Homo sapiens: one gene and its partners. The protein of the gene in region 1 purifies or fractionates together with the protein of each later gene. This does not show direct contact. Each region holds a gene or a part of one and is shown in the gene's direction. Other genes may lie near its edges. The genes, in order: FAM117B, TSC22D3 and TSC22D2.

Evidence for each region.
Region 2: the proteins of FAM117B (region 1) and TSC22D3 purify together in Homo sapiens (affinity purification with mass spectrometry; 2 studies listed by BioGRID and IntAct, with this or other methods). This does not show direct contact.
Region 3: the proteins of FAM117B (region 1) and TSC22D2 purify together in Homo sapiens (affinity purification with mass spectrometry; 2 studies listed by BioGRID and IntAct, with this or other methods). This does not show direct contact.

Annotation. Positions count from the first base shown.
Region 1 is NC_000002.12:202,763,966-202,767,267, forward strand, and holds part of FAM117B (protein FAM117B), read left to right. Parts: intron 1-1,480; coding exon 1,481-1,799; 3' UTR 1,800-3,302.
Region 2 is NC_000023.11:107,769,252-107,772,909, reverse strand, and holds part of TSC22D3 (TSC22 domain family protein 3), read left to right. Parts: intron 1-3,658. UniProt on the Homo sapiens protein: Protects T-cells from IL2 deprivation-induced apoptosis through the inhibition of FOXO3A transcriptional activity that leads to the down-regulation of the pro-apoptotic factor BCL2L11.
Region 3 is NC_000003.12:150,460,254-150,463,723, forward strand, and holds part of TSC22D2 (TSC22 domain family protein 2), read left to right. Parts: 3' UTR 1-3,470. UniProt on the Homo sapiens protein: Reduces the level of nuclear PKM isoform M2 which results in repression of cyclin CCND1 transcription and reduced cell growth.

The DNA of each region.
Region 1 (3,302 bases):
ATAAACCTCTGTAATCATGCCTGTTAGATTCTCTTGTGGCGGTCTTAACCTCTTCTGTGCTGTGGACAGCTTTGGCAGTCTGTGTGGTAAAGCTTGTGGATCCCTTCTCTGAATAATGTTTTAAATGCATCATATACACAAGATTATAAAGGAAGCTAGTTATGTTGAAACACAGCTCTGTCCCCATCACTCCTCACCCCACAAGAACTATAAATTTAGTCCACCTCCTCCTTGTGGATTGTTTCAACTTTGTATCCTCAGAATTTAGTGAACACTTGCATTTTTATTGAACTGATTTAGATTTTTTGTGTGTGTGTGAGACAGGGTCTTGCTCTGCTGTCCAGGCTGGAGTGCAGTGGCCCGATTATGGCTCAGTACAACCTCCACCTCCCAGGGCCAAGCTATCCTCCCACCTCAGCCTCCCAGGTAGCAGGGACTACAGGTGCATGCCGTCAGACTAGATTATTTTTTTTTTTAAGGTTTTTATAAAGACGAGGTCTCACTATGTTGCCCAGGCTGGTCTGGAACTCCTGGGTTCAAGTAAGCCTCCCCGCTCAGACTCCCAAAGTGCTGAAATTACAGGTGTGAACCACCATGGCTGGCTGATTTAGATTTTTATTGTCATTGGAAGAGATGAGAATCAACCTAAGTCTTGATTTATTTAGGTTCTCCCACCTTAGTTCTGTGGCATTTCTGTGTTGCTTTAACAATGTAGTTTTTTTATACTTTTAATTTTCATGAAATACCATTAATACCAATATCTTTTTCAACAATTTGGGTTAATTTTCAGGAGGACCTAGGAAAAGGGAAGGATTTGGCTTTAATAAAAAGCTTTCAAAGCAAAGGAGTTTTCATTTTGATTTCACATTTACATTATATTGCTCAGAAAACTATCAGGGTTAACTCAAAGAATTGTTTCCATCAAAGAGATTTTTACAAGCACTTGAAGAGAAAAGCCAGGCCTACCATAGTTTTAGTCATGCAGTGGTGGAACTTAGCAAAAGACGGACATTGTATATCTTTAATTTCCTTGCTGTCTCCTTCCAGTATACTATAGACCTCGGAAAAATCATGGCAGTGGAATATACCATACATAAAGGCATACATGTCTTTAAACATCTAGATTTTCTTTTGCTATAGGAAATTCATTATTCCCTTGACCGTCTTAGCTCATCATTGACATGCAGTGCTCATCGGGCTGAGCCACCTGCATGGTAATGGGGCTGTCAAGGGAACTGAAAGCAGCAATGATGATGGGGGCTTCTTGCATTCTAAGATACATATGTTGAATCATATGTCAGATAGCACTTTGGTCCTTTATGTTTGAAGGTGGGGGACAGAGCTTGAGTTTTATATTCCTTTTCTGTGATGTAAGTTAACTGTTTTTAAAAAATAAAAGAGCTTGTTTCCAAGCTTTTTTTTTTTTTTATTTTTTAAGTTCAGTGACTTAAAAGCATTGGGTTGTCTGTTCTATGTCTAGGCCAAAACAGCTTCATGAAATCCCAGCCTTTTATTGTCCTGACAAAAACAAGGTGAATTTCATTCCTAAAAGTGGATCTGCTTTCTGCCTCGTCAGCATCCTCAAGCCACTCCTTCCTACCCCGGATCTTACACTCAAGGGCTCTGGCCACAGCCTGACAGTCACCACTGGCATGACAACCACTCTGCTGCAGCCTATTGCTGTGGCCTCCCTGTCTACAAACACAGAGCAAGACCGAGTCTCTCGAGGAACAAGTACAGTCATGCCATCAGCTTCTCTACTCCCACCACCAGAACCAATTGAGGAAGCTGAAGGATAGGTCACAGTGCAACGTGGCTGTTGTTCTGGGAAATTGGGAACCTCCTCAGATCACTGGATTCTGATGGCATCGTGCGCTTCTGGTCGGCTGTGATGTGCTCCAGCTTTCCAGTGACATGTGACGGCGAGGCTTCTGGAAGAAAGGATCCCCCGTGACGGCTCTGCCCCACTTGTGAACGCCAACCCTCAGTGCTTAGCCTGCTTTTTATCAAAGCACTGATTGAAACAAGAAAGGTCTCATTCTTTACCTTTGGAGAGACAATATCACGTTTTTGTTTTCGAATTAGACTTCTTTAAAACACACACACACACACACACACACACACACACACACACACACACACCCCTGATCCTTGCCAACATGATTCCTAAAGGGAGATGTGACTGATGCTGCAAGAACCATCTTTTCTATGAAAATGACTATTTTATAATATACCAATGTTACATTTTCTGAAACGTAGCAAACAGGATATTCAAAAGATTCTTTGGTGGCCTCTGTTTCTTGTTCCCTTTCTAGATGTGTGCTTTTCTCAGCTGTTTTCAGCTTTGGGACCAAAGGGATTGTTGACGTTTTCCCAGCAATCTTAATCTCATGACTATGTTCTTCTCCCAAACAAGGATTGATAGGTAAATGCATTGAACAAGTATATATAAAAAGAGATTAAAAAGCAATATTCGTACATTATGTGATTTATGTTTTTGATGTCAAAAGTTTGTGCTTTGGGTGAAATATTTGTATAACTGCTGTTTTCTTCACTACTCCTGTACACATTTCACCATGTGGTCAGAAAAGTTGTAGTCTGAAGACAAGTGCTTTAATATGTTCTCACCCATATTGGAACTTGATTTAAAAGTCAGTGAGCCAAAAGGAAGCTATCCAGCGTTGATTGCTAGCTAAGAGTAAGGAGCCCCTTTGGTTTTCTGTGATATATATATATATCACACGCTCTCCCTCCTTTACCACAGGTGTCATTCTACCTTTAATCATCACTGTATCATAGCCCCAAAGAGATCCTGAAATGGCTGTGCATGGATTTCCTCCTTTGCCCTTGTGATGTTGTTGTCTTGTGGATTTGGTTGGGCTAGTAGTTTGCCAGGAGTGTAATCCAGTGGATAGTGATCCAAACTGTAGCCGCAGAATCCTGTGACTGACATTTTTCTTTGTGGTGGTGGTTGGCCCTGAGATTTGTTGCCTACAGATTTTGCTAATTTACCCCCCTAACGCTTCACATAGTGGGGAAAATACACAAGAAGAACTTGAGTATGAACGATAAGCACCTTTGAAAACTCCATACAGTTTTGGATTAGGGCTCATCCTAATATAAATCACTGCCAGTATCACATGACATCAGTATGTGATTTCTGGGTATGTGGTAGTGAGATTAAGGAGCAGCTTTTTTTTTTTTTTTTTTTTGAGACGGAGTTTCACTCTTGTTGCCCAGGCTGGAGTGCAATGGCGCAATCTCGGCTCACTGCGACCTCTGTCTCCCAGGTTCAAGCAGTT
Region 2 (3,658 bases), on another chromosome or scaffold:
TCTAAGAGGACAAAGTATTCTCTTGCTTTTATTTATTTTTATTTATTTATTTTTTTCCTGAGACAGGGTCTCACTCTGTCACCCAGGCTGGAGTGCAGTTGCATGATCACAGCTCACTGCAGCCTCAAACTCCTGGGCTCCATCGATCCTCCCACTTCAGCCTCCCAAGTAGCTGGGACTACAGGCACACACCACCATGCCCAGCTAATTTTTGTATTTTTTTTTTATAGGGACGGGATCTTGCCATGTTGTGCAGGCTGGTCTCAAACTCCTGGGCTTAAGCGACCTGCCCACCTCAGCCTCCCAAAGTGCCAGGATCACAGGCATGAGCCACTGATCCCCTCTTGTTTTCCTTGACAATTGGGACCTTAGAGACTGGGGATTCTGAATTCGGTTTAGGTTTTGCCCAGTATGACATGCTCATTAGCAAACTAGAAGACCATTATTGCTGGTCATGGGGCTTCTCCAATATCTGGGGTAGACAGCCTTCTCCTAAGTGAACATATCCCTTGTTACTTCATTAAATTCCCTGGGTTTCTATCATCATACTTCAGCCATCGTTTTTACTTCTATTCAATTTAATGATTTGACATTTCAGGTTCCTGTTGGGTGCTTTTTTCCTTTGTCAACTTTCAAGGCCTCTCCTGCTGGAGAAGCTAGTCTCCCACCCCTCCTCCTGCAGTCCATTCCTTTGCCAAGAGGGCTCCTATATTTTTAGGAAGAAGAGCAGGGCACATTCTTGATTTACATCTGGTTTGTCTGCTTTGACCTGTCCCTGGCTCCCAGCTTCGTTCTTGGTTTCCTTGGAACACAAGAGTATAAGCAATTTGAGGGTAGGGCTGTGTTTTACTTGCTTGGTTTTCCCTTGGCTTTTAGTTATACAGCCAATATTCAATAAAGGTTTCTTCAGTTGGATGACTACTTAAATATTGACGTGGTCCCTTGTAAAGATTTTACAACTTTATACTGTGCTAGAAAATCCTTATTAATGTTTAAAAGTTGTTTTCCTTCCGTTTTAACCACATGCAGTAACTCTCATAGCCTGATGGAAGTCCTGATAGTGCTGTGTATATACATACGAATCAGTGAGAATGGGCATGCAGCCTGTTGGTATGTAAATGGTACCTGTAAACAATTGGGTTGGGGAAGAAGTGTATTTTAAACACCATCCTTTCAATCTTGTATTATGTAACTAATAACCATAACAGATTAATAACTAACACTTCTTGAACATTCACAATGTACCTGCATAATCTAATTTAATATTTACATCAACTCTTTGGAATGGATTTATTTATTTATTTGTTTATTTATTTATTTATTTTGAGACGGAGTCTTGTTCTGTCGCCCAGGCTGGAGTGCAGTGGCACGATCTCAGCTCACTGCAGTCTCCACCTCCTGGGTTCAAGCAATTCCCCTGTCTCAGCCTCCTCAGTAGCTGGGACTACAGGCGCACGCCACCACACTCGGCTAATTTTTGTATTTTTCGTAGAGATGGGGTTTCACCATATTAGTCAGGCTGGTCTCGATCTCCTGATCTCAAATGATCCACCAGCCTCGGCCTCCCAAGGTGCTGGGATTACAGGCATGAGCCACTGCGCCCGACCAAATGGGTACTATTATCATCCATTTTCATTTTATAAAGAAGGAAATTGAGGCTTGGAAAAAATTAAGTATCTTGCCCAATGCCTCACAATGAAGAGCAGAGCCTGAATTGTCTATGAAGAAAGAATTGTTAAGAACACTCAGTAACTAAACTAATGCTAAAGAAATTCTTGTAACACTTAAGAATTGTCTATGAAGCAGAGGTAAATGTGAGCTCAGAACCTTTCCAAATGGTCAAAATGTCCTTATTAGGTAGGGAAACCAACCATCCCAGTCCTGTGACATAGGACTGCCTGTGCTCAAACTGGAACAGTCCTAGGGAAACTGGGATGGTTGGTCACCCTGTTGTTAGGGGACTTCCCCCTTGTCATTTGAATATGCTTCTAATACTGGAAAACTTAGGAGGGAGATAGAATATTCTGGGCAAACAGCAGAAGTTTCCAATTTAAATGTAGCATATGAAAAAGCTTCCCAAGTTGACATTTGAAGAGCCTTCCTTAATTTTTCTGACCTGTAAGGTATAACAACCTGTAACAGGAGCTTTGACAGTATTCGTTGTGATTGCTGTTGCTGTAACCTCAAATTTTTTTCTAAGATTTTACCCAAAACCTCTTAATCAGCTCTATTCTACCTTTGACCCCAGAGCGTACCTGGCTAGTGTGGTCTGAAATACTCTGAATCCGATTTCCCTTCCAGCTCTAAAAACCCTAGGATTCTACCTTTAAGCTTCTGACCTGGCCCCAACTGGTTCCCATATATAAATGCTCAGAAAATGATAAAAATAGCAAACATTTCTAATTGCTTTATGTGTGCTAATTCATTTAATATCCCCTATTAATATAGTAACAAAGGGGAAGGATATAGATTCAGAGATCAGGTTTTCAAGAAAAATTTGTGCAAAAAATTATTTGTGCTTCTCTAAGTGAGTCTCAGAACAAGTAATTTCATAATGTATATTCCTGGACCTGGCTTCTGAGGTGGTGGCCACTCACACGGCATGATTTGAGTGGCTGCCTGCTGCAGTGCCTAAGTTCATACTATTTAAGATTCAGTTCTCTGTCCATGTACCATCTAAAATTCCTCTCCCAGAGCACCGCTGGTATGTAGACCACACTGTGAGAAACCCTGTATTAGAGATTGCAACGCATTGTCAACTAATTTACCATTTGATTTTGAGGATGGAGTTACTCGCTGTAGAGCGGTTTTGGGTTTCTGTGTGGTTAAGCCTGTCATTCTTTGCCTTTGTGATTTTTGCTTTTGGTATCAAGCTTCAAAAGTCCTTTCATAGCCCAAAGTAATTTAAAATAACTATTTCCTGAGTGCCTAGTGGTCTGACAAAGAATAGGCATTCTTGGATTAAGGGACCTTCTCCATTAAAAGCACAAATGCATTTGCAAACTTAACATTCATGGTTTGGATACTTCATGAGAACTCAGACTGGTAAGAAACTGTGTTTTTGCTGAGGCACAGATGTGAATCACATGTGCAAGGAGACTAGTAGGTGGGGGCCGGTCCTTTCACCAATGAGTGAGCCTGGTGCCCTACCCCACATCTACTAGTGTGTGTGTGTGTGTGTGTGTGTGTGTGTGAAAGAGAAAGAGAGAGATGTATTATATGCATATATTGTACATAGTACATATATATATATAGTGGTAAAATAGATATAAAATTTGCCATTTTAACCATTTCTAAGTGTACGATTCAGTAGCATTAGGTATATTAACAATGTTGTGCAACCATTATCATTCCCAAAATTTTGTCATCATCCCAAACAAAAACTCTGTACCCATTAAAGAATAACTCACCGTTTCCCTATTTTCCCCTCCCACTACCCCCTGGTAACCTCTATTCTACTTTCTGTCTCTATGGATTTGCCTATTTAGATATTTCATATAAATTGAATCATACAATATTTTGTGTCTGATTTCTTTCACTCAACATGTTTTAAAGTTCATCCATGTTGTAGCACATATCAGTACTTCATTCTTTTTATGGCTGAATAAAATTCCATTGTATGGATATACCTCTTTTGCTTATCCATTCATCTGTCAGT
Region 3 (3,470 bases), on another chromosome or scaffold:
AAATAGTGAGCAATATTTGTACTCAATATTCATATTATGTTAGTGATACTTAAGTAGGAAATCCTTGTCTACCAAAACTTTTACTTGAATTCAGAAAGGTGCCTGTAGAAATTAACATGCACTGCATCTGTAGCCAGCTAGCTAATCAGAGTTAATGAGAACCAGTAGTTAGTTCTCCGTGTTAAAAGACTTATTTGAAGTAAAAATTTAATCAGATTAGCCACAAACAAACAAGGCATAAAATTGGGATGTACATGAGATTGCCAAATATTTTCTATTCTAGTTGTGCTGCAAGACATTGAACAAAATGTTAATGAATAACATTATAAATCAAGGAACTAAGTACATAGGCTTGAGTAAGCAACCCTAAGGATGTGTAGTAAGATTCCAAGTAGAGCTGCTACAGGTGAGATACTTAATGGAATGTGAAACTTCACTGTTGGACTGTTAACCGAAAAGGTTTGCTGGCTGTGCCCCTCCAGTGCTAACTGTGACATGTGATATTTAATACAGGTGGAGAAAAACTAGTCTTAGAAATGGGATTTTTGTGAAAATAGATTCCATTTTGATTCTGGGGCTGGAAAAACACTTCATAAACAAAGTAATAGTCTCCAAGGAAATGAATAATAAGGTTTAAAATGGTAACAGCAGTTATTACTACTTTTATATTAAGAAAAACAGTAGAAAAGGAGAGAAAATATGGGTAGTTCACAGAAGAGATAAATGGCAGTTTCTAAAGGTTCAACCTCTAGTAACCTAAGAAATGCAAATTAATGTTTTTGGCGAATTGTAATAAGTGTCCTAAGTAGCAGGACTTAACATAGAAAGAAAGACAGGCTTTCCTGTGTACTTTTAGAAAGTAATTTGGCAGTATGTATCTAGAGCCTTAAATAATAAGCTTTCCAGTGTAACGACAGGAGAAGATACTCAACTCATGGTCCATTGTTCAAAAATGCAGAATTATTGTGGTGTCTGCCCTCTGCTTTCCCATCATCCCCTCCCCTCAAAATCCAAACTATCCCTACTGTCAACCCTTCCCCCAGCTGATTGTTTAGGATCTTAAGTAACTTCCAATTCAGCTTTGGAGATTTAGTCTCCTGCTCCAAATAGTTGTAAATATTAACTGATTGAGATCCCAATTTGGAGGCACAGTCTTACAGGAATGCCATCTATCTAATTCTGTCAGTGTAATGCCCATAGAGCAAGGTCCCACATAAGCTTTTCTGTTTTAATTTAGCCGGTAAATCATAAGTAGAAATTTTTCTGATACGGTAATTGTCTACAATTCAAACCTAACTTTCCCCAAATAAAATTTAGTTTGTTCCGATGTGATCTCACAGCTTGCCACACCAAAAACAAATAGTAGGGGTTAGGAGGCATTAAATAAACAGTTTCCTTAACTCCTGATTGTCCAAAATAGCTGAATTTTTCCAATTCTATTTATAATATCCTATGCTAATTAGAAGTATTGAGATAACGTTTTATAATCAAGCCTCCAGTGACTGGGGATCACAGCTGCCATTATTCACAAGAATTTTCACAGGTGAATGATTATATTTCTCCAAGTTGCAAACTCCAGTAATTCATGGACCTTTTTTTAAAAAAAAAAAAAGTCTTAATAGAACCAGAATATCTCTGTTCTTGAAAATTTATCTTTGCAGAACCAGAAATAGCTAATTGTCTGGAAACAATTTTTAAGATTTGAAGTCACATTTTTAAAAGAAGCTTTATGGCTCAGTGGCAAGCACTTTGTGACATTTCTTTAATAATCCTATGAAAAGGACAAAACCCAGCCCTCAAAATTGACAATTTGAGGACATAATAAGCCAACTGATAATGCAGTGAGGAATACTTGTTACTATGTACAGTCAGGGATGGTTTTGTCAGGGTAGGTTTCCTCAAAAACATGACACCTGAGTCTTGAAGGTCATAAGAGCCAGAGGGAAGGGTGTTCCAAGCACAAGAAAAGAGAACTCAATGGCTTAAAAGTATAAACAAGGCTCCTAGGGCAGCCACAGAATTGCATTGGAGACAGGCAGGCAGTGACTTCCCCACTGACCTAGTATTTTGGCATCTATTCAGAAAGCAAGAATGATTTATTGAATGGTTTTAAGCAATGGGATACTATGCTCAAATTATGCTGGATGTGCACAATTCCAGTGGCAGATGGGAGGTAGGTTAGAGTAGCTGAAACTGGAAGCTGAGAAATAATTTAGGAGGGATGACAATCCGGAAAATAAATGAAAGGGCAAAATTACATAGGCAATTTTGTGAAGGTCATGAAGGAAGTTTGTCTTGGGTCTTTCTGTACCATTTTCCTCTCCACAATGAACATCCCATTCCCAGTGTCAGGTATCAGGTGCCTATTTTCTTTTTTTCTTTTTTCTTTTTTTTTTTTTTTGAGACAGAGTCTTGCTGTGCTCAGGCTGGAGTGCAGTGGCAAGATCTCGGCTCACTGCAACCTCCGCCTCCCAGGTTCAAGCGATTCTCCTGCCTCAGCCTCCTGAGTAGCTGGGATTACAGGCGTGTGCCACCATGCCAGGCTAATTTTTGTATTTTTAGTAGAGACAGGGTTTCACCATGTTGGCCAGGTTGGTCTTGAACTCCTGACCTCAAGTCATCTCCCCCGCCCGCCTGGGCCTCCCAAAGTGTTGGGATTACAGGCGTGAGCCACCGCACCCAGCTGCCTATTTTCTTGTCCCTCCAAAAAAAGATTAAAGAGTCCCAACTCATACTTGAAAGTTTGACTCGGTCTTTTCCTTCCAACAGTTATAAATCTGTGAAATGAAAGTCTTTGTTTCCTTAAAGGGATTTCAAGAATTTAACAAAAGGGTTGGGGAATGGAACCTTTGCTGTCACTATGCCTGTCTCTCAATTCTACCCTAAAGGTAAACTAAATGGAATCCTTTTATGGTGACTAGGATTAGGATGTTGATTCCAAAGCCTTTCCCTAAAATCTATTCCTTGCTCCCTGGAAAGGATAATACAGGTTCTGGCCCCCACTGTAGGTACTGACAGCCCAAGGCAGAATAGGTTTTGCTAGGCTTTAGCCTTTTATTCTTTGACATAGGTCAGTCCTGCAGGCTTCTTTTTTCTAAGTCTCCTGCCTATCCAAAACCAGACCTTTTCTCCCACCTCCTTCTGCTTCAAGCCTCTTAATAATCCATATTTCTATTTTCTAGCAATAGTAATAGTTTATTATTTAGTGATGTATACTTGCACCCCATTTACTCCTTTTCAATATTTCAGGATACATCTTTGTCCTGTATTTCTGTACCAGTTCACAGAATTTCTACAGCAAGATCCCTTTAAATGTATGGCTTTCCTTCATAGGTTGCAAGGATTACTTTATACAAGTGCTACTGTAACTATATCTTTTGTGGAGTACAATTGGTATGACATGCTGTGTTCATAGATGAAAATGCTAAGTGAGGCACTCTGAAGCAAGTTAAAGTTCACAGACATTCTTG